2 separate regions of the Homo sapiens genome follow, and region 1 is linked to region 2. Evidence: fine-mapped expression QTL. A gene starts in region 2. The other region holds a variant in brackets. All regions are shown on one strand. Distances are from middle to middle. Region 1 holds the start of SCNN1D (sodium channel epithelial 1 subunit delta). Region 2 holds the start of C1QTNF12 (C1q and TNF related 12).

What was found.
Region 1: its variant is fine-mapped to the expression of C1QTNF12 in whole blood (TOPMed, PIP 0.95).

The regions. Positions count from the first base shown.
Region 1 is chr1:1,270,869-1,285,518 of GRCh38, reverse strand. SCNN1D (sodium channel epithelial 1 subunit delta) reads right to left here and starts at 5,083. Exons shown (of 18, transcript NM_001130413.4): 1 at 4,853-5,083; 2 at 4,222-4,293; 3 at 3,909-4,108; 4 at 3,204-3,277; 5 at 1,429-1,541. The coding sequence starts at 4,857. LINC01786 (long intergenic non-protein coding RNA 1786) reads right to left here and starts at 11,517. Exons shown (of 3, transcript NR_185846.1): 1 at 11,038-11,517; 2 at 10,220-10,716; 3 at 4,912-6,451. It overlaps UBE2J2 (ubiquitin conjugating enzyme E2 J2), which reads left to right and starts at 11,665. Exons shown (of 7, transcript NM_058167.3): 1 at 11,665-11,853. RefSeq lists silencers at 2,159-2,359, 11,031-11,080, 11,241-11,820 and enhancers at 10,181-10,819, 12,010-12,517, 12,518-13,024, 13,025-13,533. The variant C/G (reference allele first, on the strand shown) is at 4,318.
Region 2 is chr1:1,237,731-1,252,889 of GRCh38, reverse strand. C1QTNF12 (C1q and TNF related 12) reads left to right here and starts at 6,168. Exons shown (of 8, transcript NM_001014980.3): 1 at 6,168-6,376; 2 at 8,393-8,509; 3 at 8,615-8,699; 4 at 8,785-8,936; 5 at 9,338-9,446; 6 at 9,738-9,828; 7 at 9,977-10,055; 8 at 10,244-10,437. The coding sequence starts at 6,200. The coding sequence ends at 10,342. RefSeq lists enhancers at 1,457-1,736, 4,663-5,443, 5,444-6,225.

The sequences.
Region 1 (14,650 bases), 33 kb before region 2:
GGCTCAGGGGAAGACTTGCCCTTCTTGCCCCTGATGGCTGCACCCACCCCAGCCCCCAGTGTGGCCTGCTGAGGACCGACTGTGCCAGGCCCATCCAGCCAAGTCCAGGAAGCGTCTGGCCTGGACACCGCTCGGCACTGTGGCTCGGGGTGGCCCCATTGAGCTGAGTACCGGGGCCAGCTGCGGAGACACAAGGGCCCCAGGAAGCCCAGCCACTGCCTGCCCAGTCCCGCGCTGGAGGCTCTGGAGTCCTGGGACAGGCCTAGCTCTGGTCTGCGAGGCTGTCCCGCTGCCCAAGCCTGCTCCGAGGTACTCTGGGGAGGTGCTAGAGCGAGCCAGAAGCTTCGGGGCCTGGGGACACCAGGTGGGGACGGCTCCCCTCGGGTGTGTGGGCCGCACAGGCCTCCAGGCAGCCTGGCCAGGAGCTCCACCACTGGGCACATGGCTCTGCTCACCCTGCGTCCCCAAGGCCATCTGAGCAGGGAGGCTAAGAGGCTCGGAAGGGTCTTTGTGACTCCAGTCCCCACTCCTCGTCTCCACCTGGCGCATAGACAGGGCAGCACCATCCCCCTAGTGGGGGCTGCCAGGCCAGCAGAAGCGGGAGCTGTGGATTGGGGTCTGGAGGGCCAGTCAGGGTCCCCAGGGCTTCTGAGTGAGGCAGGGCCTGGACCCCTGGTCAGAGAGGAGCCGGACCCCACCCTGCATGTGCGCGTGTGTGTGAGACAGGACTACACTGGCCTCTCCACCCTGTCTGGATCTGCGTCGTGCCATGTGGCCAACCCACGGGATGCACAGCGCCTGGACACGCAGTATCTGCAGTGTTCTCCCGGGGTCTGTCCAGCACACGCTATGCACCCCCAATGGTCCAGCACACACTGTGCACCCCCAGTGGTCCAGCACACGCTCGGCACCCCCCGTGGTCCAGCACACGCTCGGCACCCCCCGTGGTCCAGCACACGCTGTGCACCCCCCGTGGTCCAGCACACGCTCGGCACCCCCAGTGGTCCAGCACACACTATGTACCCGCAATGGGACACAGCCTTCTTCAGGATAAGGAGGCACTCAGGGATGACCTGCCCCATTGCCACCATGCAATCCTGTTCCTGATGGCACACGGGGCCAGGCATCGGAAAGAGACCCCCCAACCCAGCCCCTGGTACCTCAAGGTGGGAGCCCCCCCGCCAGCCCCACCCCCCCACCCCTACCCCCCACCCCAATCCCCCCACGGTACCTCGAGGCGGGTCCCCCCAACCCCAACCACCACCTTGGTACCTTGAGGTGGGGCCCCCCAACCCCAACCCCCTCATCCAACCCCCCCAACCCCCTCACCCAACCCCCCCAACCCCCCCACCCCCCTCACTCAACCCCCCCCCCGACCCCACCCCCCTCACCCAACCCCCCCACCCCCCTCACCCCCCCCCACGGTACCTGGAGGTGAGAGCCCCCCCGTGTGGCTGCTTCCATTCTCCCGTCCATGCTTCGGTGCTCAGCCATTGCGGGGGCAGCTGGCAGCTCTGAAGCAGGATGGAGCCTCTGGCCTCCTATTTAAAACAGGCTGGCTGGGCGTGGGACTGTGCTGCAGGCGAGGGAGGACCCAGCCAGGGCAGCCACACCTGCCCCGGACCCAAAAGGGGAATTCCTGGGGGACAGAGATGCCCATCCCTCTGCAGGTGAAATCTTTCCCATCCTGAGCCCTGCAGGGGAGGCCTGGGGTCCTGACCCTGGCTGAGAGTAAGGGGCTGCAGCCTGTGGAGGGAGGGGGAGGACAGTGTTGGGCTGAGACCTCCTTGGAAGCCCCATCTTTCTTTCTTTCTTTTCTTGAGATGGAGTCTCACTCTTGTTGCCCAGGTTGGAGTGCAATGGCACGATCTAGGCTCACTGCAAGCTCCACCTCCCGAGTTGAAGCAATTCTCCTGCTTCAGCCTCCTGAGTAGCTGGGATTACGGGCACCTGCCACCATCCCAGGCTAATTTTGTATTTTTAGTAGAGATGGGGTTTCTCCATGCTGCTCAGGCTGGTCTCAAACTCCCAACCTCAGGTGATCCGCCCGCCTTAGCCTCCCGAAGTGCTAGGATTACAGGCGTGAGCCACCGTGCCCGGCCCAGAAGCCCCATCTTTCTCTGCCAGCTCCTGGAACTCAGATCCGGGGCCGTGGTGGGCTCCCAGCACTCCCTCCCTTCCCTGGCTGACAGACACTGGGTGGGGACCTCAGCTCCCAGATCCAGTGTCTCTCGGGACCAGCCGCCCAGCCATTGGGACAGGTGCTAATGTGGGAACACCAAGGGTCTGGGTGTGGAGAAGGCACCTGCTCCCCCGAGTAGGCACAGGGGCTCGCCCTCCCTGCTGGACACTATAGCTGCCACCAACCACACCACACACTAAGATGACGCGCCACACACTAAGACTTTCAGTCCACACCCACACCACACACACCAAGATGCTGGCACACATGGAAGTGACTCACGACCACCAGGCGCGGTGGCTCACGCCTGTAATCTCAGCACTTTGGGAGGCCGAGGCGGGCGGATCACAAGGTCAGGAGTTTGAGACCATCCTGCCTAACACGGTGAAACCCCGTCTCTACTAAAAATACAAAAAATTAGGTGGGCGCGGTGGCAGGCACCTGTAGTCCCAGCTACTGGGGAGGCTGAGGCAGGAGAATGGTGTGAACCCAGGAGGCGGAGCTTGCAGTGAGCCGAGATCGTGCCACTGCACTCCAGCCTGGGCGACAGAGCAAGACTCCGTCTCAAAAAAAAAAAAAAGAAAGTGATTCACAACACACTAAGACCCCACACATGCTAAGACCACACACGTATGCTAATACCTCACACACGCTACGACCTCACACACACTAAGACCACACACGCTAAGACCTCACACATGCTAAGACCACATGCTACTGTCAGGGTCCAAATCACAGTCTCCCAGGCTGGCGTCTTCAGCCCCAGTGCGGTTGTGTGGAAGGCAGGTGTCCCTGTCCCCCAGGACCACCCCATCCCTGTCTACTGTGGGACCCTAGATATCCAGGTGGCCTCACTGTCCCAAATGACCAGACCCGAGCCGGGCCCAGGTTGGAAGGGTAGGCTCTGTGTTCCTGACATCCTGCCCCAAGTGGTGCTGGGTCCCTGGGCTTGGCTGGGGGAGCCCAGCCCCACAGGGTCCAGCAGCAGAGCCATGGCTCTGAGGAGGGTGAGGTCACCTGCCTGCCGGCTCTGGAAGGAAGCAGCTGCCACCGGTGACGTCCTGGAGAGGAAAGCCATGCTGGAGTCACCCAGGCCTGTGTGAATCACAGCTTCGTCACTGGCTGTGTGGCCTTCCCGAGTTACTCAACCTCTCTGAGCTGATTTCCTTGAGTGCCAGATGGGGCTGGGGTGCCTCTCCAAGCTCGCGGCAGGGGGCTTGCTGATGTCACAGAGACCCCACAGGTCAGCGGCAGGGCCCCCGGACACAGCACAGGCCTGGGGCTTCTCCCCCACCACATCTGGGCAGCTTTGTGCGTGGGCCGCACCTGCCGAGGAGACAGGGCACACATGGCCCGGGCGGCTACTTGGCAGGCGGGGACAAGGTCCTAGGTGCTTGCCAGAGATTGTGGCTGGAAGCAGCCTGTGCCTCCCTGTGTCCCCGGGAGTGGCCTGGCAGACAGCCCAGCCTTGGTGCAGGGTGCAGAGAGAGAAAGAGCCCAGGTCCGGCCAGTGGGGCCCGGTCCAGCCAAAGGGCAGCTTGCAGGAGCAAGGCCCCCGGCTTCCTGTAGGAGGGGGAGCCCTGGCCGGGGGCAGAGCACCCCTTCCATGACCCGTATGCCCTGCAGGGCCTCAGTCAGAGCACATCTCGGCTGGATCACGCAGCTCCCGGCTCCACCCCCCTCCCCTCCTCCCGGGCAAGGCCTCTAAGGGCTGAGGTTCAGTCACCTGTCCCACACCCCTGTATCGGGCCAGAGAGTAGGCAGAGGGGGTAGCCACAGAGCACATGTCCAGCACTGGTGAATCCACATGGTCCTCCCCCTCTTCTGGGCCATCCCCTCGCTGGCCCGGTGCAGGGGGTGGGGTGGGGCGAACCCAGCTCCCGGCATGTGGGGGTCCTGTGGTCACTGCACCATGACCAGGTGAGCCTGAATGAGAGAAGGGACGGGCAGGCATCCCTGGCTCCCTTTGGGCCCATGCCTCTGCTCTCTCCCAGGAAAGACGGCCAGGCCCCATTGACCGAGCATGGCTGTGAGCTCACCTCCTTGGGCCGCTGAGGTGGCCGGGCCACAGGTAACGAGGGAGCGGTGTTGTCTTCTGTGACAGCACTGCCCTGGAGATGGCAGGCGCCTGGCAT[C/G]TGTGGGACCCCAGCCAGGACCTCCTATCCCAGAGCCCCGTTTCCTCCCCTGGGGTGAGCGTCCCCCACTCAGGGTCACTCTGAGTCAGCCCTGGGACGGTTCTGGTGCAATAGACAGGCAGCCCAAGGTCGGGATTCCCGTGGGCATGGGCAGGCCAGGGGTGGCCTGGGGTCCCTCTGGGGTCCTGCACCCAGGCAGGTGAACAGCCTCCCAGGCAGAGCCCCCTCGGCCCCGGGCATCAACTGCACTGTCCAGTGGAGCCTCCGCAGAACAGGCACTAAGGTGGCACCAAGGTGCCCCCGGCTGCTGGCCTGGGTGGGTGCTGAGGGTGGGAGTGTGGAGCTTGGGGTCTGGCCGGTGTCCCCTGCTGGGAGGAGTAAGGTGCGTGTGGGCTGCCTTCTAGGTTCCCTCATAAACCAAAAATAAAATTATAAGCCCTGAACTGTCTGGATGGACCCCTGGTCTTAGCCATGGGCATTCCAAAGTTAACCTGAAAAACTAGCTCAGCTGTGATGGGAAGGGAGTCGGACGCACCTCATGCCTCCTCCCTGCTGGAATTCAGGCACAGCATCAGCATCACCTCAGGCCTTGAGTCTGATGAGAAGCATTTATAGTTGATTCTCTCTGAGGCTTGTGACCTGGTGGCTTCATCTGCGATAAGACCTTCATCTGCACAACGCCATACTGTAACCAGACATTCCCTTCTACTGATAACAACTCTTTTTTTTTTTTATTTATTGAGATGGAGTCTCGCTGTCGCCCAGGCTGGAGGGCAGTGGCGCGATCTCGGCTCACTGCAGGCTCCGCCCCCCGGGTTCACGCCATTCTCCTGCCTCAGCCTCCTGAGTACCTGGGACTACAGGCGCCCGCCACCACGTCTGGCTAATTTTCTGTATTTTTAGTAGAGACGGGGTTTCACCGTGTTAGCCAGGATGGTCTCGATCTCCTGACCTCGTGATCCGCCCACCTCGGCCTCCCAAAGTGCTGGGATTACAGGCATAAGCCACTGCGCCCAGCCTAATTTTTGTATATTTTTTTAGTAGAGATGGGGTTTCACCATATTGGCCAGGCTGGTCTTGATCTCTTGACCTGGTGATCCGCCTGCCTCGGCCTCCCAAAGTGCTGAGATTACGGGTGTGAACCACTGCGCCCGGCCACCTTTTTCTTAAGACAAGGAGAACGACTCCCTTTTGGGTACCCCATTTGGTTTCTAGCTCGGACGTGCGTTCCTAAGGGTCTTCTCTGTTGCTTTTTCTCCCAAAATTAAGCCCAACTGGCTTGTGCGTGCATTTGCATGAGGAACTGAATTGTTCTTTGCATAGATAAATGAGAGACTGAGTTTTCTCAGCTCCAGAAAGAAAGGCATTTTGCTCCTCCCAGCTGAAAGGCGCCCCTGGGTGACTGTGAGCCAAGTGGGAGTATCTCGTGGGCTGATCCCCCACGACGTGCAGCAGCCCCACAGGGAACCCCCCAACACAATTAGTTTAAAAAGGTTTGTCTGCTGGGTGCAGTGGCTCACGCCTGTAATCCCAGCACTTTGGGAGGCCGAGGCGGGTGGATCACGAGGTCAGGTGATCGAGACCATCCTGGCTAACACGGTGAAACCTCGTCTCTGCTAAAAACACAAAAAATTAGCCGGGCATTGTGGCGGGAGCCTGTAGTCCCAGCTACTTGGGAGGCTGAGGCGGGAGAATGGCGTGAACCCGGGAGGCAGAGCTTGCAGTGAGCCGAGATCGTGCCACTGCACTCCAGCCTGGGCGACAGAGCGAGACTCCGTCTCAAAAAAAAAAAAAAAAAAAAGGTTTGTCCAGGAAATGCACATAGGAGCTGGTCACTCTGTGTTTTGAGTCCTCTCGGAGGTGTTGGACTTCTAGAGAGAGAAACAGAGACACGTAAGAGGGCGAAGATGCCTCAGTGGTGACACACTGGGGAGTCCCGCCCACGACCCGTCCACGACCGGCACACTCAACCTGCTCCACGGAACCCCATTCCACAGCTCGGTTCCTCTGCGCCCCACCTGCTCCACGGAACCCCAGTTCCTCCATACTCAACCTGCTCCACGGAACCCCAGGCCACAGCTCAGTTCCTCCGCGCCCCACCTGCTCCATGGAACCCCAGGCCACAGCTCGGTTCCTTTCAAGAAAAAAAAAAGTGGGAAATAAATAATGTAAGCCTCAGCAAAGACAAGAGGGCGACCTCCTTCCAGGCACCCCGCTGGTTTCAGGCGCCTCTACCTGCAAGTGTTGGTATAAAACTGAACATGTCGCGGGCATGCTGGGTTTCCTAGTGCCCCAGCTGGTTCCATATTATGGTCTTTTGGGGCACATTTTAAACTGATGGGCAAATTCCATCCAGGAAAAATTCAGAGCCCAAAGGTCAGCCTGCAACTACAGAACCATAGAGTTCCTGGCCAGGCGCAGTGGCTCACGCCTGTAATCCCAGCACTTTTGGAGGCCAAGGCGGGCGGATCACCTGAGGTCAGGAGTTCGAGACCAGCCTGACCGACAGAGTGAAACCCCATCACTACTAAAAATACAAAAATGAGCCGAGCGTGGTGGCATGCACCTGTAATCCCAGCTACTTGGGAGGCTTAGGCAGGAGAATAGCTTGAATCTAGAAGGCGGAGGTTGCAGTGAGCTGAGATCGTGCCATTGCACCCCAGCCAGGGCTGCAAGAACAAAACTCTGTTTCAAAAAAAAAAAAAAAAAAGAACTATAGAGTTCCTAAGTTCTCTATCTCTCTGTTTCCTTTGCTGCCTGCCTTAAAGCTGCTGTTACACTTTTTGTTTTTTTTAGGTAGAGTCTCACTGTGTTGCCCAGGCTAGAGTGCAGGGGTGCGATCTCGGCGCACTGCAAACTCTGCCTCCTGGGTTCAAACGATTCTCCTGCCTCAGCCTTCCAAGTAGCCAGGATTACAGGTGTGCGCCACCACGCCTGGCTAGTTTTTGTAAATTTAGTAGAGACGTGGTTTCACCATGTTGGCCAGGCTGGTCTTGAACTCCTGGCCTGAGGCAATCCACTCACCTTGGCCTCCCAAAGTGCTGGGATTACAGTTGTGAGCCACCGTGCCTGACCAGCTGTTACTTTTCTACTGAGATGACATCCACAGTTTGCATCTAGATGTTTCTTTCTGTTATTGTTTTTCTAACTAGTGACTTTGTGTTGATATGTCATGGTTAGAGGTGTAAAGCAAAAGCTGTAGGGTTTTTGGATGAGTGTATATGTGTGTTTAGATGTGTTTATGTGTACGTGCGTGGATTCTGATACATGTTTTGTGGCCACAAGGTATCAAAGTGGCTTAAGGAGTATGCATACATTTAGTACATAATAACAAATTTCATGTGACTTAAGTAAAAAATTTTTTTTTTTTTGAGACGGAGTCTCGCTCTGTCCCCCAGGCTGGAGTGCGGTGGTGCGATCTGGGCTCACTGCAAGCTCTGCCTTCTGGGTTCAGGCCATTCTCCTGCCTCAGCCTCCCGAGTAGCTGGGACTACAGGCGCCCGCTACCACGCCCGGCTAATTTTTTGTATATTTTAGTAGAGACGGGGTTTCACCATGTTAGCCAGGACGGTCTCCATCTCCTGACCTCGTGATGTACCTGCCTCGGCCTCCCAAAGTGCTGGGATTACAGGCGTGAGCCACCGTGCCCGGCCAAAAGTATTGGTAAAGTAATATAAGGAGTGTCTTAAAAACTGTCAGCATACATTTTTGTTTGCATTTATTGATTTATAAGGGGTCAAAACTTGGCATAAGCATTGTAAAACTCTAAACCCAGCTGAAGGCCAGGCATGGGGACTCACACCTGTAATCCCAGAACTTTGGGAGGCCGAGGCAGGTAGATCACCTGAGATCAGGAATTGGAGACCAGCCTGGCCAACATGGCAAAACCCCGTCTCTACTGAAAAATACAAAAATTAGCCAGGTGTGGTAGCACATGCCTGTAATCCCAGCTACTTGGGAAGCTGAGGCCGGAGAATCACTTGGACCTGGGAGGGGGAGGTTGCAGTGAGCCGAGATTGCACCATCGCACTCCAGCCTGGGCGACAGAGTGAGACTCCATCTAAAAAAAAAAAAATTATAGGAAAACGTTCTTTCTACAAAAATTCTTATTATAAGGTAAATAATTTTGTCTAATTCAAAGCTTATTTAAAGTTTATGTATAAAATGAGTTAAAAAGAACAAGGAAATAAGAGAGACCAAGGAAAGTTATAGATATAAAGAGGTCTTTTTGTTAAGTAAGGTTAAAAAAAATAATTTTATATGAGAAAGAATCTTGTATGGTAAATTTTTGTCCTTAAATAAATGACTGGTTGTTTAAAAAAAGGGATGTTCAGCACAAACTAGAAAGTCCACATGTCGTGAACGGTCTGTGTAAGCTGCAATACCTTTGGTAAAAAAGGAATTTATAAAAATGTTACATGATAGATCGGGTGTGGTGGCTCATGCCTGCAATCCCAACACTTTGGGAGGCCAAGGAGGGCGGATCACTTGAGGTCAGGAGTTCAAGACCAGCCTGGCCAACATGGTGAAACCCTGTCTCTACAAAAATATAAAAATTAGCCAGGCATGGTGGTGCATGCCTGTAGTTCCAGCTGCTCAGGAGGCTGGGGCAGGAGACTCAATGGAACCTGGGAGGCGGAGGTTGCAGTGAGCCGAGATCATGCCACTGTACTCCAGCCTGGGCGACAGAGTGAGACTCCAACTTTAAAAAAAAAAATTGTTTTAAGAGGTAATGAATGCTGGTCCATGTCCATTCCTATCTGGCCTACAAAATTTAATGGGCTGTAAATCTTTTAACTGTAAGTCCCTGGGTCATAGGGAGTCAAACTGAGGGACAGGATTGACTGAGGGTGGGCAGCCACACTCGCCCAGCAACGCTGAGACACAATAAAGATTTGGTGGACATGGATGTTGCCTCTGGCAAATCTTGGCCAGAAGGGGGTGAATGTAAACCAAAAATTAAATTCTAAGGCCCCCCCAGCCGTCCAAATGGACCCTTCCTCTCAGCCAAGGGCGTTCCAGTGTTAACCTGGGAACTTGTTCAGGCCATGGCGGGAAGGGGTCGTGGGTCATGCCTCCTCCCTTTTGAAATTCAGGAAAAGCTGACTAGCATTAACATCAACACAGGCCTTAAGTCTGATAGGAAACATTAACAATCTATTCTCTCTGAAGCCGGCAACCCGAGGCTTCAGCTGCGTGGAAAACCACAACCCCTTACTGCAACCCAGACATTCCTTTCTATTGATAATAACTCTTTCAACCACTGTCGGTCAGGATCATTTTGAATCTGCCTATAACATAGAGGTCTCCCCACACCACCCCAATTTATCCTGCTCTTTCAGATTGAACCCGTGTAAATAAATCATGTCTCCCTAAAATGTATAAAAGCGAGCTGTGCCACATGCACCTTGGGCACCTCCCGAGATGTCATGGGTGTGTCCTTAACCTTGGCAAAACAAACTTTCTAAAGGGACTGAGACCTTCCTCAGTTTGCACCCTCCAGGCTGGGTTCTCTGTCCCTCAAGCATCCCCTGGCCAGACAATCCCTGCTGTTCAGAGGCAGCCAAGGCTTTCTGGTCCAACCCTGGGGGCTGGAGGAGGTGGGGGCAGGAGGTGGTAACTGGGTTGGGGGATGTTTTCTTGGTTGCCAAAGCAGAGGGTGCCCCCCGCTGCTCAAGATGCTGAGGGTGGTCCCTGTTGTCCTATTCCTGAAGCTGCCAGAGGAAGTCCCTCCGGAGGGCTGGCCCACAGCAGAAGGGCTGCTCCTGCCCTCAGAGGGCAATCTCAGGGTTGAGAAGGTTACAGCCACCATCTGCCACCAACCTAGCTGCTTGTGCCGATCCCACTGGCCAAGGCCATCGGCTCTATGGCTAGAGGCCTGGGCAGCCTGTGTCCTGCTTACCAGAAGGCCACAGATGCGGGTGGGTGGGGTGGTGGGGTCTTGGCAAGACGTGCTGGCCACACCTGTCCGGGGCACCTTCTCCCTGGGGTGTGACTCAGCCATGCTCCTGAGCAGGGGCCTCTGAGTTGAGCCTCGCTGCAGTCTTCCCAGCTGCAGGGCCCCCACAGGTGTGCTGTCATCGCACACTACTGAGGGACAGACAAGGCAGAGCGGGCCTCCATCTGCCGCGGGCCACAGCCGTGAGTGTGCATGCGAGTGGATGTGCTGGTGCCTGTATCTGCGGCCGGTGTGGCTTCCCTCACATAACTTTCCATGCTGTGAAAACAGTTTGGCCTGCCCTGCATGGGAACGGCAGAGGCCTGAGAGGAGGCAGAGGAAGGAGGCTGGATGCTGAGATGTTCTCCGAAGGTGGAGCCGGTGACGGCAGTAATGGAGGCAGGCTGGATTCCCACGGGCTGAGGCTGCGTGGACACTCCTCCTGGCTTCTGCCCCACGGCCTGCAGCAACGTCTCAGACCCACCAAGGTGTCCCAGAGGGCCAGAGTCAGGGCTGAGCATGGACACAGCCTGCCCTCTGCCCGTAGCCACAGCGGGACTGACCCTCAATATTCAGCCACCTTGCTGACCTGTGGTTGTTCCTGAGAGGCAGTCAGGGTTGGGGCAAAGGAGAGGGCCACAGGCAGCCAGGTGGCGAGGTCCACCTCCTGATCCCCCACCAGGGGACCACCCTCAGCTCCCCGCTGTCCTCAGCGGCCTCTCAGGGAGGCGGTGGGCTGCGCGCCTGCCCCCAGCGTCCCACCCCAGCGCCCCGCCACCTACCGCTCTCTCCCAATGTGTCTGGGGTCAGAGAGAGGTGGAGAGGACGCAGCGCCCCGCGCTTTCTGCAGTCTGTCCAAGGGGAGGTCAGGGGCATCCCGGGGCTGGGCAGGCACCTGCAGGGGAGGGTGCTGCGGCGCGGACGTGGGTTGCAAAGAGATGCCACGCGTGTCACTCTCGGGTCCCTGAACGAGAGAGCTCTGAGCTCCCTGGAGCCCAACCCTCCACTGAGCCTCCAGGGGCCCGGGACGCTCCATGCCCGGGCCGCGCCGCGCCTCCCCTAAGGGCCGGGTGGGGCGTGGGAGCGGAGGACAAGGCGGGAGCCGGGAGGCGGGAGGGTCGGGGTTCTTTCTCCACCGGGGTCGCCCTCAGCCGGGCCTGCCGCCCTGGGCCGTGGCACATGGGGAGGGAAGCGCGCGGCTTCGGGGTCTGGGGCTCTCGCGCCCACTAACGGTGCCCGGAGCCGCCCGCCAGTGCGCAAGCGCCGCCCCGCCCCCCGCCCCATCCCCCACCCCGGGGTCGACGGCGACAGAGAGTCGTGGGCGCGGTCCGCCAGTCTGCCTAGAGCGGCCAGCCCTCCCCCTCCCTCCTCACCGCCCCGGACCGCGCACCGGAAGCAGAAGCTAGGCTGGTTCCGCCCCGCGAGCGGCCATCTTGGAGGCTGAGGCGGCGGCGGCGGCGCTGCGGCGGGTTCGGTGGGCCCAATCCCGGGGCGGTGCGGCTGTTTCGGGCGCGGGCCCCGCTTTTCCGCACCCTGCTCCGGCCTCGACTACGGCGAGCCTGAGCGCGGCGGCGGCCCACGCGCAGCGACAGGGAGAGGTGAGCGCGCTCGCAGGCCTGCGCCGGGTCCTCGGGCCCGCTCGTCCCCCCTGCCGGAGCCGGCCACAGCGGCGGCCCGGGGCTGCTGGGGACCCTGCGCGACGCTTCTCCGTTCGCGCCCGCCGCCCGCGGGGCCCCGGCCCGAGCCTGCCTGCGCGGAACCCGAGGTCGGTTACGGCGGGCTCCCGGAGCTCCGGGTCAGGGTCATGTCGGGGACTTGACCACTCGGCCGGGTTTCCCGTCAGCTGGGACACTTGCAGCTGCCCCAGGACGGGCAGCCTCGATCCTGGTTCGTCAGTGGATCACGGGAGTCTGTGTCGGGGGAGGGCTGCCGTCGAGCCCGCCGTCGCCTCGCCCCTGAACTGTTAGACTCCAGACTGCCCCGTAAACCCCGAGAGAAACGAGCGTGCCCGGGACTGTGCTTAGGGCCAGCGTTTCTGGGAAACCCGGGCGGTGACAGTGGGAGACCACCGCCGGCCGGCGAGTGAGACACGAGCCCGGAACAAGTCTCTAAGCGGCGCCGGGCCTCGCCATCCACACCTGCCAGTTCCCTGCATCCTTTCAGCCCCTGGCCAGGTGTCACCTCCTGGCGTCCTTTTCAGTGCCTGCCACTTAGTGCGTGTGTATTTAACTCTAGTCCGGTTGCCATCCTCTTGCCAGACCCAGATAGGAAGCGGCTGAAAGGTCGGGCCTCAGCCCGGTGGGAGGTGGGCAGCGAAGAGTGTACAGCGGGCTTGGCTGGGGCAGGTCGGTGGCCCCGCGCCCTGCTCCAGGGGAACCAGACTGTGTAATCTGGCTTCCGAAGAAAGGATCGTGAGTATCTCGCTTAGTCTAGCACCTGAGCCTAGGGCGTGGTTGGGTCTGGGTGCCCGGAACTTGCAGTCCGTCATCTGCACGGCCTGGCACCGCTGACCTCCTTAGCAGTTCCACTCTCGGCAGGGATGTGCGTGAGTGACAGGCAGGTGAGCCAGGCAGGTAGGTGAGTGCTTGAGTGACAGGCAGGTGAGCCAGGCAGGTAGGTGCGTGGATGAGTGACAGGCAGGTGACCCAGGCAGGTGCATGTGTGAGTCGCAGGTGAGTGTCCCATTTCCATCGGCCCGGGCTTCCGTCCAGCCTCCGGAGCAGTCTGGTGGAGAAGGCAGAGACTTCCCTGGCAGTCCTGGACCTGGGTGTGCCATGCGCCTGGCCGATGGGTCAGGCCAAGGTTTCCTGCCACATCCCCTAAGCAGGAAAGAGCTGTCCAGACAAAGAGGGACGGGTGAGGGACGCTGGGCAGCCACTGCCTCAGCACCTGGGCACAGCTGCCCTCGGTGATTCACGCTGCTTTAATGCAGTTTCTGTGTGTGAACATTTTTTTTTCCTGTGCCTTTTTGTTTTAAAATCGCCAACTCTTTCTCTCAGCAGGATGATATGCTTGGTGTCCTTTGTCTGTGGGGATGTTTGAAGGGAACCCGAGGCACATATGCTTCAAACTCTGTTCTCACAGTTTGCTTCCTTTGTGGAATTTTTTTTTTTTGATACAGGGTCTCTGTTGGCCCAGCTAGAGTGCAGTGACATGATCTCAGTTCACTACAGCCTCCGGCTCCCGAGTTCAAGTAATTCTCCCACCTCAGCCTCCAGAGTAGCTGGGATTGCAGGTGCCCACCACCACACCCGGCTAATTTTTTTTTTTTTTTTTTTTTTTTTTTTTTGAGACGGAGTTTCGCTCTTGTTGCCCAGGCTGGAGTGCAATGGCTTGATCTTGGCCCACCACAGCCTCCACCTCCTGGATTCAAGTGATTCTCCTGCCTCAGTCACCCGAGTAGCTGGGATTACAGGCACATGCCACCATGCCTGATTAATTTTGTATTTTTAGTAGAGACGGGGTTTTACCATGTTGGTCAGGCTGGTCTCGAACCCCCGATCTCAGGTAATCTGCCTGCCTGGGCCTCCCAAAGTGTTGGGATTACAGGTGTGAGCCACCACGCCCAGCCCCTTTGTGAATTTTTGTTTTCCTTGTCCTTCCTGCTGTCATATTGGGATGAGAAGAATTGGGGGAAATAGCCCCCTGGCCTCCTGGGGGACGTGAGAATGCTGTTCTGTGTGAAGCTCAGGAAGAGTGGCTGGGGAAACAGCAGTTGAATCGTGAACATGATTTTAAAAGCCTCTCCAAGCAGGTATGGGAGAGAAGCTTGTTTGTGACTCATTGGATGGAATCTATTTTATTTTTGCGCGGCTGTCCATGAACTTTCGTTAAACCTGCGGCCTGGCCACTTAGCTAAGCCCAGACCCACCTGCACTTGAATTGTCCAGTGAATTATTTTGTATATGGCAGAGTGTTAGCTTCAGGGTGAGTGTCGAAAGGACAGCCTGTGTGGCGGTGCTGCTTGGGGTCATCACTGTGGCCATCACCAGGTGTTGGCCTGAGGGGAGATCCCTGGCCCATTGGCTTCTTTAGCCAGGAGCTGGGGATGCCACTGTGTGGAAGCACTTCCTTCCCAGGCAGGACTGTAACCCCATCCCTGGTGGGGGCCCTCCTGGGGAGGCACTCCTTAGGCAGAGGAACCCGCTGGGGCCCAGAAGGGCCCTGCGTTGTGTGTGGGGTCACATGGAGGCCAGTGATGTGTGACAGAGTGGGAGGCATTTGGCAGGGAAATCAGGGAGGCCTCTGAAGGCGGTGGCTCTGGCTATGCCGGGAAGGGCCTGGGGAGTTTCCAGTACAGGCTAGGCTGGGAAGCAGCTGTGAGAAGGAGTGTGTCGGTCAGGACTTTGGAGTGGGACCTGGGCCGTGCTGGGTCTTGGGAGTTGGGAACGAGGA
Region 2 (15,159 bases):
CATTCTTTCTTCTATGTATTTCAAAGACTTTTAGTACTTTCACTCATTGTGCTACTGCTATCTAGAAGGCGGAGCCCGGTGTACAGGGCGGACCACGAAAGCAGACCAGGAGTGTGACCGCTGAAGCACAGCATCACGGGGAGACGGGCCTCTGGATGGCTGCGGGTGGGCCTGACTGATGTCGCCTTGCACAAGAGATGGTGGAGCAGAGTCTTCTCTAACTCCCCCGGGGAAAAGGAGACTCCCTTTCCCCGTCTGCTAAGTAACTGGTGCCTTGCCAGGCGCTAGCGCTACCGCTAGACCAGGGACCCCTCTGGTGGCCCTGTCCGGGCGTGACAGAGGGCTCACACTCTTGTCTCCTGGTCACTTCTCACTATGTCCCCTCAGCTCCTATCTCTGTATGGCCTGGTTTTTCCTAGGTTATAGTTGTAGAACAGAGATTATTATAATATTGGAATGAAGAGTAATGCTAGAAACTAATGATTAAGAATATTCATATATCATCACATCTATAATCTATTTCTAGTGTAACTATTCTTATTGTGTATATTTTCTTTATTACACTGGAACAGCTCATGCCCTCGGTCTCTTGCCTCGGCACCTGGGTGGCTTGCCGCCCACATGTAACGGTGACCTCCTGGGCTCAAGGGATCCTCCAAACTCAGCCCCCTACATATCTGGGACCGCAAGTGTGCGCCACCATGCCTGGCTAATTTTTGTATTTTTTGTAGAGATGGAGTTTCGTCATGTTGCGCAGGCTGGTCTTGAACTCCTGAGCTCAAGGGATCCACCTGCCTCGGCCTCCCAAAGTGTTAGGATCACAGGCGTGAGCCACCGCGCCCGACTAAAATCTCAACTTTTTTTTTTTTTTTGAGACGGAGTCTTGCTCTGTCGCCCAGGCTGGAGTACAGTGGCGTGATCTCTGCTCACTGTGACCTCTGCCTCCTGGGTTCAAGTGATTCTCCTGCCTCAGCCTCCCAAGTAGCTGGGATTACAGGTGCCTGCCACCACACCCAGCTAATTTTAAGTAGAGACGGGGTTTCACCATATTGGCCAGGCTGGTCTGAAACTCCTGACCTCGTGATCTGCTTGCCTCAGCCTCCCAAAGTGCTGGGATTACAGGCGTGAGCCACCACGCCCAACTGAAATCTCAACTTTTAGCGATCATCGGTCAAGCAGTGAAGGTGGTGCCCGTGGCATGTTGTCCGCACTGGCCCAAAATAAAAAATGATGTTTGGGCCGGGCGTGGTGGCTCACTCCTGTAATCCCAGCGCTTTGGGAGGCTGAGGTGGGCAGATTACCTGAGGTCAGGAGTTCGAGACCAGCCTGGCCAACATGGTGAAACCCTGTCTCTACTGAAAATACAAAATTAGCCGGGCATGGTGGCATGTGCTTGTAATCCCAGCTACTCAGGAGGCTGAGGCAGGAGAATCACTCGAGTCCAGGAGGTGGAGGTTGCAGTGAGCCAAGATCGTGCCACTGCTCTCCAGCCTGGCTGACAGAGTGAGACTCTGTCTAAAAAAAAAAAAAAAATGATGTTTGGCCTGTTGGGCCGGGCACGTCTGACCCTCTGTCCCCGTCTCCCTTAGAGGAATCGTGGGCCCCTCTGTTCTTGTGTTGTCACCGGTGGAGGCCGTCCTTGACTTCCCCCTGGGAGCACGGTGTGTCCCCTCGCCATGCAGAGCACACTGTGAAGTCTTTTAATGAGGAGAGAAAAGCCCCTTAAAAGTTGATATTCTGCAGACAGGTGAGCACGTGGCCTCGTGGTCACAGGAAAGAAGAGGCGTTTCCTGTGTTCTGGCAACCTCGAGCTTCTCTGTGAGCGCATGCCCAGGCCTGCCTGAGTGCTGATGAACCAGCCGGCACAGCAGAGCACTCCGGGTCTGAGGGAGCTGCTCTCCCTGCAGCAGGCGGCTGGGCAGGGCACCGTGGTCCTTTGCCATTTTTCCAGGGCCGGGGGGTGTCAGGGTGTCTGCGTTGGGGGGTGCAGGGGGTGAGCAGAGCCAGCAGCTGCACCTGAGCCTCCCCTTGTGAGCAGCTCGTGGCTGTGGCCCAGGGTACCCTGGATCCTTGGTGGGTGACCCAGAGGGTGGGGTCCTCTTGGTCGTCTTCTAGAGGGAGCATGGGGGCTGAGTGTTCCTGCCTGGGTGCCAGGCTCAGCTCATTTTAAAGGTGCCTGGGGTTGGGAACACGAAGCCACATCCTTCCCAGTTAGGCCCAGCCTCCCAGGGTGAGGGCAGCAAGTCACCCAGGTGCCGAGGGAAGAGACCGAGGGCACAAGCTGTCCCAGTGTAACAAAATATATAAAATAAGAGTTATACTTGGTATAGACCATATGTGTCACTAATCATTAGTTTGTAGTAATTATTCTTTATTCCAATATTATAATAATCCTCGCTCTATAATCATAATCTAGGAAAAACCAGGCCATACCGAGATAGGAGCTGAGGGGACATGGTGAGAAGTGACCAGAAGACAAGAGTGCGAGCCTTCCGTTACGCCCGGACAGGGCCACCAGAGGGCTCCTTGGTCTAGCAGTAACGCCAGCGCCTGGGAAGGCACCCGTGACCTAAGCAGACCGTGGTCTAGCGGTAGCGTCAGTGTCAAGGGAAAACACCCGCTACTTAGCAGACTGGGAAGGGGAGTCTCCCTTTCCCCGGGGGAGTTTAGAGAAGACTCTACTCCTCCACCTCTTGTGGAGGGTCAGGCCCACCCACAGTTATCCGAAGGCCTAACCGTCTCCCTATGATGCTGTGCTTCAGCGGTCACACTCCTAGTCCGCCTTCACGTTCCATCCTGTACACCTGGCTTTGCCTTTTAGATAACAGTAGCAAAATTAGTGAAAGTACTAAAAGTCTCTGATAAGCAGAAATAATGGCGTAAGCTGTCTCTCTCTCTCCCTGGCCCCTGCCTTGGCTGCCAAACAGGGAAGGGCCCCCGTCCAGTGGACACGTGACCCACGTGACTTTACCTATCACTGGAGATGGCTCACGCTCCTTATCCTGCCCCTTTGTCTTGTATCCAATAAATAACAGCGCAGCCTGGCATTCGGGGCCACTACCGGTCTCCACATCTTGGTGGTAGTGGTCCCCCGGGCCCAGCTGTCTTTTTTATTTCTTTGTGTTGTATCTTTATTTCTACGATCTCTCATCTCCGCACACGGGGAGAAAAACCCACAAACCCTGTAGGGCTGCCCTCTACACCAGGGCTGCCCGTTTTCCTGCCTGTAGGGCAGAGGGGGAGGCCCAGCCTCCCTCGGTCTAGCCTCCCAGGGCTGCCCGTGTCCCGGCCTGTAGGGCGGAGTGGGAGGCCCAGCCTCCCTCGGTCCAGCCTCCCAGGGCTGCCCGTGTCCCGGCCTGTAGGGCGGAGTGGGAGGCCCAGCCTCCCTCGGTCCAGCCTCCCAGGGCTGCCCGTGTCCCGGCCTGTAGGGCGGAGTGGGAGGCCCAGCCTCCCTCGGTCCAGCCTCCCAGGGCTGCCCGTGTCCCGGCCTGTAGGGCGGAGTGGGAGGCCCAGCCTCCCTCGGTCCAGCCTCCCAGGGCTGCCCGTGTCCCGGCCTGTAGGGCGGAGTGGGAGGCCCAGCCTCCCTCGGTCCAGCCTCCCAGGGCTGCCCGTGTCCCGGCCTGTAGGGCGGAGTGGGAGGCCCAGCCTCCCTCGGTCCAGCCTCCCAGGGCTGCCCGTGTCCCGGCCTGTAGGGCGGAGTGGGAGGCCCAGCCTCCCTCGGTCCAGCCTCCCAGGGCTGCCCGTGTCCCGGCCTGTAGGGCGGAGTGGGAGGCCCAGCCTCCCTCGGTCCAGCCTCCCAGGGCTGCCCGTGTCCCGGCCTGTAGGGCGGAGTGGGAGGCCCAGCCTCCCTCGCTCCAGCCTCCCAGGGCTGCCCGTGTCCCGGCCTGTAGGGCGGAGTGGGAGGCCCAGCCTCCCTCGCTCCAGCCTCCCAGGGCTGCCCGTGTCCCGGCCTGTAGGGCGGAGTGGGAGGCCCAGCCTCCCTCGCTCCAGCCTCCCAGGGCTGCCCGTTTTCCTGCCTGTAGGGTAGAGTGGGAAGTCCAGCCTCCCTCGGTCCAGCCTCCCAGGGCTGCCCGTTTTCCTGCCTGTAGGGCAGAGTGGGAGGCCCAGCCTCCCTCGGTCTAGCCTCCCAGGGCTGCCCGTGTCCCGGCCTGTAGGGCGGAGTGGGAGGCCCAGCCTCCCTTGCTCCAGCCTCCCAGGGCTGCCTGTGTCCCGGCCTGTAGGGCAGAGTGGGAGGCCCAGCCTCCCTCGGTCCAGCCTCCCAGGGCTGCCTGTTTTCCTGCCTGTAGGGTAGATTGGGAAGTCCAGCCTCCCTTGGTCCAGCCTCCCAGGGCTGCCCGTTTTCCTGCCTGTAGGGCAGAGTGGGAGGCCCAGCCTCCCTCGGTCTAGCCTCCCAGGGCTGCCTGTGTCCCGGCCTATAGGGCAGAGTGGGAGGCCCAGCCTCCCTCGGTCCAGCCTCCCAGGGCTGCCTGTTTTCCTGCCTGTAGGGTAGAGTGGGAAGTCCAGCCTCCCTTGGTCCAGCCTCCCAGGGCTGCCCGTTTTCCTGCCTGTAGGGCAGAGGGGGAGGCCCAGCCTCCCTCGGTACAGCCTCCCAGGGCTGCCTGTGTCCCGGCCTGTAGGGTAGATGGGAGGCCCAGCCTCCCTCGGTCTAGCCTCCCAGGGCTGCCCGTGTCCTGGCCTGTAGGGTGGAGTGGGAGGCCCAGCCTCCCTCGGTCCAGCCTCCCAGGGCTGCCCATTTTCCTGCGTGTAGGCCTGAGTGGGAAGTCCAGCCTCCCTCAGTCCAGCCTCCCAGGGCTGCCCACTTTCCTGCCTGTAGGTCAGAGTTGGAGATCCAGCCTGTTCTGTCTAGAGTCACAGGGGAGCTCATTGCCAGTGGGTGACAGAGAAAATTTGGATGCCCTGCCTGTGAGGAGGGGTCTGGTAGCCCTGGGCGGGGGGTCTCCTTGGCCAGGGCACCTGCCCACCCCTCCCTTTGCCCCAAGCCTGGATTGAGGGGTGTTGGGGCTGCCTTTCCCGACCCATGCTAGATGCAGGCCACATCCAGGGCTCACCTGCGGGGGTCCAGCAGGGCTGGTACTGTGTGGGCGCTGTGCCGTGTCCCCAGGGTCCTCCACCACCTTCACGAGCGGACACGGGGCCGGGAGGCTTCCACAGTGCTCTCTGGAGATGCCAGTCAGTGCCTGAGAGCCCGGAGGGCGAGGGGGCAGCCGGGGTCCCTGGTGGGTTCCCAAGCGTCATCCCCATCCCAGCCTGGTCTCCCGTGGCTCTGCCTGTGGATGTGGCCTGGGGCTGGGGTTGACGCTGGGGTCTCGGCGTGGCTACCTTCGTGTCTGGCAAGAGGGGAGGGTCTGGAGTGTTCCGAGCTGTCCATCAGGGCCGGCATGTTGACCTTGGGCCACTGTTAGCCTCGGCCAGGACCAGCGGCTGGAGGGTCTTCCAGCCCCACCTGGCCACCCCATTCCTCCAGCCACTGAGCCCAAGGGGCCTGTCGCCATGATCTGGCCTCACCTTTCCCCCGAGTGGGGCCCCAGCGAGGCCGGCCAGCACCCCCAGGACCCTGGGCCGGGGCCGTGAGTCAGGGCGGGGCACCCGGGGGAGCCTGGGTGAGGAGGTCGTGGGAAGGGGCTGGGGCTTTGGCTGGCTGGTAGCTGCCCTCCGGTGGCTGGCTGCAGAGGCTGCTGTGAGGGGAGCCAGGTTGAGTTCAGCTGGCAGGGAGGGCGAGGAGGTAGGCTGCTGTCTTCACGGTTCCCAGAATGAGGTGGACCTTTGGGGAAGCAATGGGGGCAGGGTGGGGTCTGGGGACGGGAGGCAAGAAGCAGCGGCCGGGGTCAGTGGGGGTCTCCGCCCCGTCTCCGTCCCTGGCCGTCGGGGCGCCCGGGCGGCTGGCTGATCGTCCGAGTGTGAGCCCCCACCCTGGAGCCTGCGAGGTCTGGGGAGGAGGAGGCGAGGGGAGGATTTACTGGGCGGCGGAGTGAGGAGGCCAGAGAGGACGGGGGCTGGGAGCGGGGGCTGGAGCGGGACCCCGGGGGGACCTGAGCGCCGTCGCGCCGCCGTTCCGGGCAGGTCCGCGCAGACATGCAGCGGCGGAGGCCGGGCGCGCCCCTGGGCCTCGCCCCCGCGCGGGGGCTCTGAGCGCCGGCCGTCCCCATGACTGCGCCCTGGCGCCGAGACTCGCCGCGCTGAGCCGCCTCGGGACGGAGCCATGCGGCGCTGGGCCTGGGCCGCGGTCGTGGTCCTCCTCGGGCCGCAGCTCGTGCTCCTCGGGGGCGTCGGGGCCCGGCGGGAGGCACAGAGGACGCAGCAGCCTGGCCAGCGCGCAGATCCCCCCAACGCCACCGCCAGCGCGTCCTCCCGCGAGGGGCTGCCCGAGGCCCCCAAGGTACGCGGCCGGGACGCACGTGGGCCCTCGCGGGGCAGCTTCGGAGCTGGGGCTCTGGGGCGTCCTCCCCCAGCAGGCTCTGTCCCTGCCGGCTCTGCCTCCGGGTCGCCCTTTTCGAGGCCTCGGCCACGGTCCCGCCTTGAGAATCTGCTGCAGCCCAGCCAGGCCGGCCTCTGGGAAGCCCTCTCCTCCTCTGCAGCGGAGACCTGGCCCCCAGCTGGCCTGGGGTGGGTGGGTGAAGGGGGCTTCCCGCGGTTGGGGGCCGCAGTTAACCCTTTGAAGCGTGGGCCTGCCGCGCTCTGAGGAACCTGTTGCTATTAGGTTAATTGCTGATTTGGGGGCGGGGGTGGGGTGGTTCCGGCTGCTTGCTGGATGGTTCACCAGACCCCTTGGGAGTCCAGCGCCCCATGACTCCTGCGGCTGGAGACGCCATGGCGAGCCTGTCCCTTGTGCTTTCTGGGGGTCCTGTGTAGCTAGCACCCCCTCTTGCGGGTTAAGTCCTGGGGCCCCAGTCAGGCCGGGCGTCCTCACAAAGACAGAAGGCCCCAAGCCCACCTCAACCCTGGGCTTCCTCTCTCCTGCTCAGGGTCTCTCCAGGGGTCTTGGAGGGCAGGTCTTGCTGCCGCCGTCGTGGGCCCCAGGACTGGGAGGGGAGCCGCAGTTGCCAGAGCAGCCCCCATCCCCGGCCCTCACACCTTTGATGCTGGTCTCCCTCCTCCCGAGGGCGTCTCTGCTGCAGCCAGCCCGGCTGCCTCTCAGCCCACGCGGCCCCGCTGGAGCCCGAGGTCCCGTTTCCCAGATGGGAAGGCTGAGGAGGGTTGAGGCCGCGGCTCTGCCAGCTCAGGAAGAGTGGGCTGGTTCCCGGCGCTAGGGCCAGGCTGGCAGTGCTGGCAGGGGCGGGGCAGTGGGGGGGTCTTCAGCAGTCCGGGCCAGTCCCCCTGGAAGGGAGGGGGCACCCCACTGCCCAGGGCCACTCCTCCAGAGACCCTGCAGGGTGGCGGGCCTCCCTCAAAGGGTGCCGGCTGGAGGGCTGTGAGGTGTGTGCTCAGGCTGGCCCTCCAGGCTTCCAGGGTTGGGCGGTTCTCCTGCAGCCTGCTCTCTGTTGCCTCTGGCTCTCAGCCCCCAGATAGGCTGAGGTACAGGCCCCTCCAGGGCGCCGGGTCCCTTCAGCACATTGCGGTGGTGGTCAACAGGACAGCAAGCGGATAGCGGATGCCTGAGGAGTGGGGGAGGAATGGGGGGAGGAGAGGGTAGGGTGGGGGGAGGAGGGGAGAGGTGTGGGGGAGGAGGGGAGAAGAGTGCGGGGAGGAGGGGGAAGAGTGGGGGGAGGAGGGTGAAAAGTGGGGGAGGAGGGGGAGTGGGGGAGGAGGGAGATGAGTGGGGGAAGGAGTGGGATGAGGAGTGGGGGGAAGGAGTGGGATGAGGAGTAGGGGGAGGAGGGGGGAGTGGGGGAGGAGGGGGATGAGGAGTGGGGGGAGGAGGGGGAGGAGTGGGAGAGGAGGGCAGAGGAGTGGGGGAGGAGGGAGATGAGTGGGGGAAGGAGTGGGGGAGGAGGGGAGAGGAATGGGGAGGAGTGGGGGGAAGAGGGGGAAGAGGAGGAGGAGGGGGAGGTGGGAAAGGAGGGGAGAGGAGGGAGATGAGTGGGGGAAGGAGTGGGATGAGGAGTGGGGGGAGGAGGGAGATGAGTGGGGGAAGGAGTGGGATGAGGAGTGGGGGAGGAGGGAGATGAGTGGGGGAAGGAGTGGGATGAGGAGTGGGGGGAGGAGGGGGAGGAGTGGGGGAGGAGTGAGGGGCTCAGGGCATCAGGCTCTGGCTGTGTCCACAGAAGCCCCGCATGCCTGCCCTGCTGGTGGCATTGGGACGTCAGGGTTCTGACTCCCCCAAGGGCGGCCGTGGGTCCTTCTCCTGGCCGGCGATGCCTTCCCTGGTTCTGCCCTGAGTGCTCCCCGCTGCCCTGGGGTCCCAGCTCTCTGCAGGGTGCAGCCTCAGTGCGCTAGCCCCGTCCCGTCCCTTCAGCCATCCCAGGCCTCAGGACCTGAGTTCTCCGACGCCCACATGACATGGCTGAACTTTGTCCGGCGGCCGGACGACGGCGCCTTAAGGAAGCGGTGCGGAAGCAGGGACAAGAAGCCGGTGAGCCCCGCCCGGGCTGCTGCAGGGTCTGAGCCCCGGACAGGGTGTGGTGGTAGCTCCCACCGGGTCCCACTGGGCCCCTCACCTGCTTCTCTCTCCCCCCAGCGGGATCTCTTCGGTCCCCCAGGACCTCCAGGTGCAGAAGTGACCGCGGAGACTCTGCTTCACGAGTTTCAGGAGCTGCTGAAAGGTCAGCCGCCCTGCACTGCCCAGAGACCAGACGTGCCTGGGCCCTGTGCTGACCCTGCTGGCCGCCTGTGCCCTCCTCCCCACAGAGGCCACGGAGCGCCGGTTCTCAGGGCTTCTGGACCCGCTGCTGCCCCAGGGGGCGGGCCTGCGGCTGGTGGGCGAGGCCTTTCACTGCCGGCTGCAGGGTCCCCGCCGGGTGGACAAGCGGACGCTGGTGGAGCTGCATGGTTTCCAGGCTGTGAGTGGAGCCGGGAGCTTAGAGCGGGGTGTTGGGTGGGGCCCCACAGGCAAGACGGGACCACACACACCGCCTGACACTCATGGGGCAGCATGTGGGTTGGGGGCTGGGGGCGGGGCTCGGAGGGCGAGGGGCTGCCTCGGGTCAGGGTTGGGAGGCCCTGGGGGCCCAGATCACACTTTATGCCCAGACGGAGCGTGGGTCCCCGGTAGCCGGGAGGCAGGGAGACCCTCCTGGGTGTGGACTCGAGGGTCAGTCCTGCTGGTGCCCACAGTGAGCGTGAGGGTCCCGGGAGAGCTGCTCCGAGTGAGGGGCTGTCGGTTGCAGGCACCTTCCCCAGGCGGGGTCTGTGGGGTGGGGGCCAGGCCCTGCGCTGGCCGCTCACCCACTGCCCCTCACAGCCTGCTGCCCAAGGTGCCTTCCTGCGAGGCTCCGGTCTGAGCCTGGCCTCGGGTCGGTTCACGGCCCCCGTGTCCGGCATCTTCCAGTTCTCTGCCAGTCTGCACGTGGGTGAGCCGGATGGGGCAGTGCCGTGTGCTGTGACGGGGCTGGGGCTGAGCTTTCTGGGGGCGCCTGGCATCGCCGGCCCCGGGTGCGGGTCCTGTTAGGGACCTATCCCCTGCCCCATGGGGGGCCTTGGACTGGGCATGGGGTCCCTGCTGCACGCCTGGCCTCAGGCGCCCCCTCCCCAGCCCCAGCAGCCACTCCTGGGCCTGTCCTGGGATGTGTGCCCTGAAGCCCCTCCCCACCAGCCCCCACCCCGCCCCCCATGCACCACCCTCCCCAGGGCTCTCTCCGCAGACCACAGTGAGCTGCAGGGCAAGGCCCGGCTGCGGGCCCGGGACGTGGTGTGTGTTCTCATCTGTATTGAGTCCCTGTGCCAGCGCCACACGTGAGTGACCTCAGCCCCCGCTCCAGGCGGCAGCCCCCGGACCACCCTTGGAGGGGCTCACAGGCCACAGGGGTCTCTGGGCACTGGAGCAGGTCTTGGCCCCCTGGACCTGCAACGCCTCCCTCTTGCCCTGTGGGGCTGTGTTCAGGTGCCTGGAGGCCGTCTCAGGCCTGGAGAGCAACAGCAGGGTCTTCACGCTACAGGTGCAGGGGCTGCTGCAGCTGCAGGTGAGTCCGGGCCGGGTGTGAGCGGGAGGGCTCGGGTGCACTCGGGCTGGGCCGGGTGTGAGCTCGGTGCACTCAGGGCGCAGACCTCTGGGGCCTCGGCACCTCCTAGCGCAGGGCAGGTGGGCAGACGTTGGCCACCGAGTGGCTGGGCTGTGGCTGCGGTTGTGACGTCCCCGTGCTTCTTACAGGCTGGACAGTACGCTTCTGTGTTTGTGGACAATGGCTCCGGGGCCGTCCTCACCATCCAGGCGGGCTCCAGCTTCTCCGGGCTGCTCCTGGGCACGTGAGGGCGCCCAGGGGGGCTGGCGAGGAGCTGCCGCCGGATCCCGGGGACCCTCCTACTGATGCCCGTGGTCACCACAATAAAGAGCCCTCCACCCTCCCCACTGCCTTCGAGTGCTGCCTGGATGTTTCACTGGGGGTGGAAGCCAGGCTGCCGAGGTCGGCGGGAGATGGGTGGGGGCAGAAGGGTGCTGTTCACAGGGGAGCCCGGTAGCTTGGGGTATGGGCCGTAGAGCCTCCCTCGGGGCCGACTTACCTGGCCCGGGATTATGGTGATGGCAAGAGGCTGGGCGCTGCCCTGGTAGCCCCTGCAGGGGCCACGTCGACCCTGAGGACAAGGACCACTGTCCGTGCCGGCCCCACTCAGCTCTGCCCACGGCCTGTCCAGCCTTGGGGGAGCAGCAGGCCGTGGGGCACTGGAAGCCCCAGAGGTTGGAGAGCAGCACTGTTCTGGGCCCTCGGGAGGCCTGCGTCCTGTGGGGGGCTCTGTGCAGGGCAAGAGGACGTGCATGCCACACACGGGACCGCGTGCTTGCATGTGCTGGCCGCCGCAGGCGTGTGGAGCTGAAAGGCACCCCTGCGGGCTCAGGTGCGCCCAGACCGTGCCGTGCCCGGGGCACCCAGGTGGAGCAGGGCTGGAACCAGCAGGCTTCTCCTCGCCTGCTCTCGGTATGGCCGCACTCTAATGACCAGGGCCTCTCGGGGGCCTTAGGGGCCAGAACTGCCCCATGGAGGGTGGGGTGGGCCCCATATGTGACCATCATGCTGCTGCTCCCTGGCAGGTCCTGTGGATTTGGGCCCCACCCCCACCCCATTTTGGCTCTGGCAAACCCACACCAAAGAGTGTAAACTGGCCTCAGGACGTCCAGGCCTCTGCTGAGCTGCGGAGATGCCATCTCTGGTTGGCATCCAGAGCCCTTAGTCGCTGGTGGGGTTGGGGAGGTTGGAAGAGGCCAGAGCCCACGGCTGTTACCCCTCCCCTGGGACCTGGAGCTGCCGGGGCTGGCACAGAAGGGGCCCTCCCCAAGGCTTGCTGGGCAGTGAGGCGGGACAGCCCAGCCCTGCGACGAGGTGTGTGGGCAGGCGCCAATCGGCACGAGGTGGGCTTGGGTGGTGACCCGTCCCCACCTCTCTCCCTGGGCCCCCCAGAGTGGCGTCAGGGGCTGGGGCTGTCTGGAGGGGCCTCTGCTTCACTTGCCAAGGCTGTGGCCCCGGCTTAGGGGCTCCTCTCTGCCCTCAGCACCCCTTCTGTGGGCACGGCCTGCCCCCTGGGGCCTGGATCTGGAACGGGGGGTCTCCCTTCTGCAGCCCCTGCCCTGCTTGGCCACAGCACTCAAGAGTGCTCCCTTCCAGAGAGTCGGGCAGCTGTGCATCTGTACAGGGGGAACCAAGGTTGTGCCGGGCCCTCCTGGAGCTGGGTCAGCGGGGACAGCAGTGTGGGGGCCCTGAGGAGGCAGAGGCAGGAGCGTGGCCTGCACCTTCCTGGTTGGCGTGAGCCCTGGGCTGCGGACTCCCCTGTTTGCTTCCAGTTTTCAGTGGCTCCTCCCCAAACTGACGGGCCAACCCTGGGCAAGAACGGGCTGGGGGCAGGCACCCAGGATCAGGCAGCACCCAGCCAGGCCTTTCTGAACACCGCCTGGGGCCTCACCATCCGGGAATGGGGGCCCTCTAGGTTCTTCAGCAGCAGCCAGTCCCCCACCCTACCCAGTCCCGGAGGTAGGAGCTGTGATGACAGATGGACATGCCAGAAATGGGACCCAGGGCCGCGTAGAGCAAGATGGTGATGAGAGACAAAGAGACGTGGAGTGGTGGGGCGGGGGGCCGGGGCTGAATGAGTTGGGGGCCAGGGCCCGGGTGAATGGGGGCGGCGGGGGCTGGGGCAGGGACCACGGCCGGGGTGAATGAGGTGGGGGATGGGGGCTGGTCGGGGGTGGCTGGGGGCTGGCATGGGGGCCAGGGTGAATGGGGGGGGCTGGGGCCAGGGTGAATGGGGGGCGTGGGGATGTCCTGGTGCTGGCACCACCTCCCTGGCCTCTGCCTCCTGGTTTCTGCCCCAGTGGGAGGTGATCAGCCACTTAGCCGCAATTCCCCTGGAATGTGCCATCTCTAGCCCCCTCTGGGCACCCAGGAGCAAAGGAATGGACAGGTCGGGGTGGGGTGGGCGGCCTCACAGGAGGGTCCAGGCTCCCAGCCCACCCAGCCAAGGCTCCATCCTCTGGCCCAGCCCAGCTGCACCCCTTCATTCTCTCTCAGCCTCACCTCCTGGGCTGGACCCACACTGCAATGTTTGCCATAGAAGGGACCCTGGACTCTTGACGAGGGTGGGAGATGCCTGTCACTCACCCAGCCGGAGCGTGGGGTCCCCGGGGCAGGTGCAGGCCAGCCAGAGCTGCTGTTGCTTGGGGTCTGGGCTGGCTGGGGGACCTGGGGAGCCCAGGGAAACGGATCTCTTCAGGCCTGTGCCCCCCGGTTTGGGAGCTGGGGTATTGAGTGTCCCAAGCGTCTGGCAGCTTCGTGGACCCTGGCAGGAGCAAAGCCAGAGCAGCCGGCTACGTGCCGGACGGCCTCAACCCGACCCCTGACCCCTGACCCTTGACCCCATGCCCTGAGCGGCAGGGAGCTGCCGGCTTCTCCGTGACCTCCACCAGGGCTGACTTCCCAGAACCGCAGGCCGACCCTGCTGCCTGGCCGGGGCTGGGGGCATCGGACACTCCTGCCGTGGGCTCCCTGCCATCCTGGGAGGGGCCATGCCCGGTGCGGGGACACTCCCCCCACCAACCCTCCAGCTCGTCTGCTCACAGGACCAGCCCTTCCCTAGAGTCCCAGCGCTGGACCTGCCTGACCCACCCTGCCCCGGGGCTGCCTCGGCTGGGTCGGAGCCAGTATTCCCAGCCCTGGTGCTGTCCTGGTCTTGAATGGACAGAAATGCGGACGGGAGCTCAGGGCAGCCAGGAAGTCCTCTTGGGGCCAGGTGCGGCAGCCACCCTGAGGGGGCAGCAGGAGCCAGGGGAGGCAGGGCTGGGGGCTCCTGGCTGTGAGGAGGAGGCTGGGCCCCGCTCCGGCCCCGCCTGTCAGGTGTGGACACCATTGCCCATCCGTCCCCGGTGCCTCAAGGGCCCCACTGTTGGGGTACGTAGGAGATGCGGCTGCCCTGGCCTGGCCCCTGGGGGCGCCTGGGTGTGGACCCTGGGGCTGCAGCCAGGACAGGCAGGCGCTGGAGGCCCAGCTTTGGCATCTTGTCTTCGCATCCTTCTCCCCGCCTCTGTCACCCCTGCCGCCCCTGCCGCCCTGCAGCTGGGAGGGTGTCTGCTCCAAAGGCCCCTCGGACTGCCTGCCAGCCTCTCTGGAGTAAGCCCAGGGCGTTCCTGGGGCCTGTCCCAGACCCCAGACCACACCACACCTGGTGACCACTGTCATCTGGGCCTTGGAACAAGAATGGCCTGGGGGCATGTAGGGGCTGTGTAGGGTCCAAACAGACCTGCCTGCCCTGCTTTGTAAAAATCTATGTACCCAGGTGCCCCGTGTTGACCCCGGGTTGACAGTTGTGTGTCCCTGCGACTGGTGCGTGTGTGCCCACGTGTCTGCACATCTGTGTGGGTCTCTGCCCTGGGACTGGGACTCTCTACAGAGCCAGCAGCACGGCCCCCTTGAGAACAAACCCAGAACAGCCGTCCAGGACCCCGGGCCCGAGCGCTTGGCTGGCCACTCAGTGCCTGGAGCGGGCGTGGCCGGGGTCCCTGGCGTCCGGGAGGCCACATAGCTTCGGTCCTGCCAGGGACAGCAGAGGGGCCCATGGAGCTGTGACGGCTGCTTCGGCATGTGGGGCTCCCTGAACTGCGTGAAGGGGTCCAGGGACGGGGCTCCCACCCTCAGCTGGGGGCTGCTCAGCGCGCTGTCCCAAGGGGAAGCTCTTTCCTGCCTGCAGAGCGCTGCCCTGGGATCTGCTGTGCTCCGACGCCGCTGGGAGCTGGAGCTGGGGGCAGAGCTCGGCGCCGCGTCCTGGGGCCGTCGCTCACGGGCTGGGCTTGGCCAGTCTGTGCTTGGACTCCCAGTTCAGGTCACTCTGAGCTATGGTGACCTCAGGGCCTGTCCCCCAGGGGTCTCCCTCAGCCTGACCCTGACCCAGGAATGGCAGCGTGTCTGGTTGCGGGAACACGCCCTGGCCCTGCCTGTGCCTGCCGAGCCACCGGCGTGTCTGTCCGCCTGCGCATCTGACTGCTGTACAGGTGGGCCTGGCACCAGAGGCCTGGGGACAAAGGGTCTTTGTTTGGGAGGCTGGGGGCAGCCCCTGCTCTGGGCCAGTGACTCACGGGTGCCCGGGCGTGATGATATCTGTGTTGCGACAGCCAGGTGTCATGCGTGTGACCCAGCCCAGCAGGGCCTCCTGCCCACCCCGCCCGCGCCCACGGCCCTCACTTGGGGGTGACGAGAAGCGTGACAGGTGGGGGCTGGGCAAACCCCGTCTCCGCAGGGAAGCGTCTCCAGACCCCTTGGGCCCCCAGCCCGCACGCCCGGGCCTCTCCCTGCCACACAGGAGTGTGCAAAACACATCTCTGCAGCAGGAGGCACCACGGCCGGACTCAGGCCCTCGGGACGGGTGCTTTTTAGGCTGAGTTCAGCTGTTCCTGGGTCGGAAGGTCTGGGTGAGGCGGTTGAGGGTGAGGCACCGTGACCGTCGCCCCGGCGGGGACTTGGGCCTGGCTCTGCCCATCCCTCACTCTCTCTCCGGTCTGAGGTGGGCGGTGGCGGGTGCGGGGCCCCTGGGGGAGGCTGGGGCCGCTGAGACCTTCGGATGCCACCGGAGGGAGGGCCTGGGGCTTGG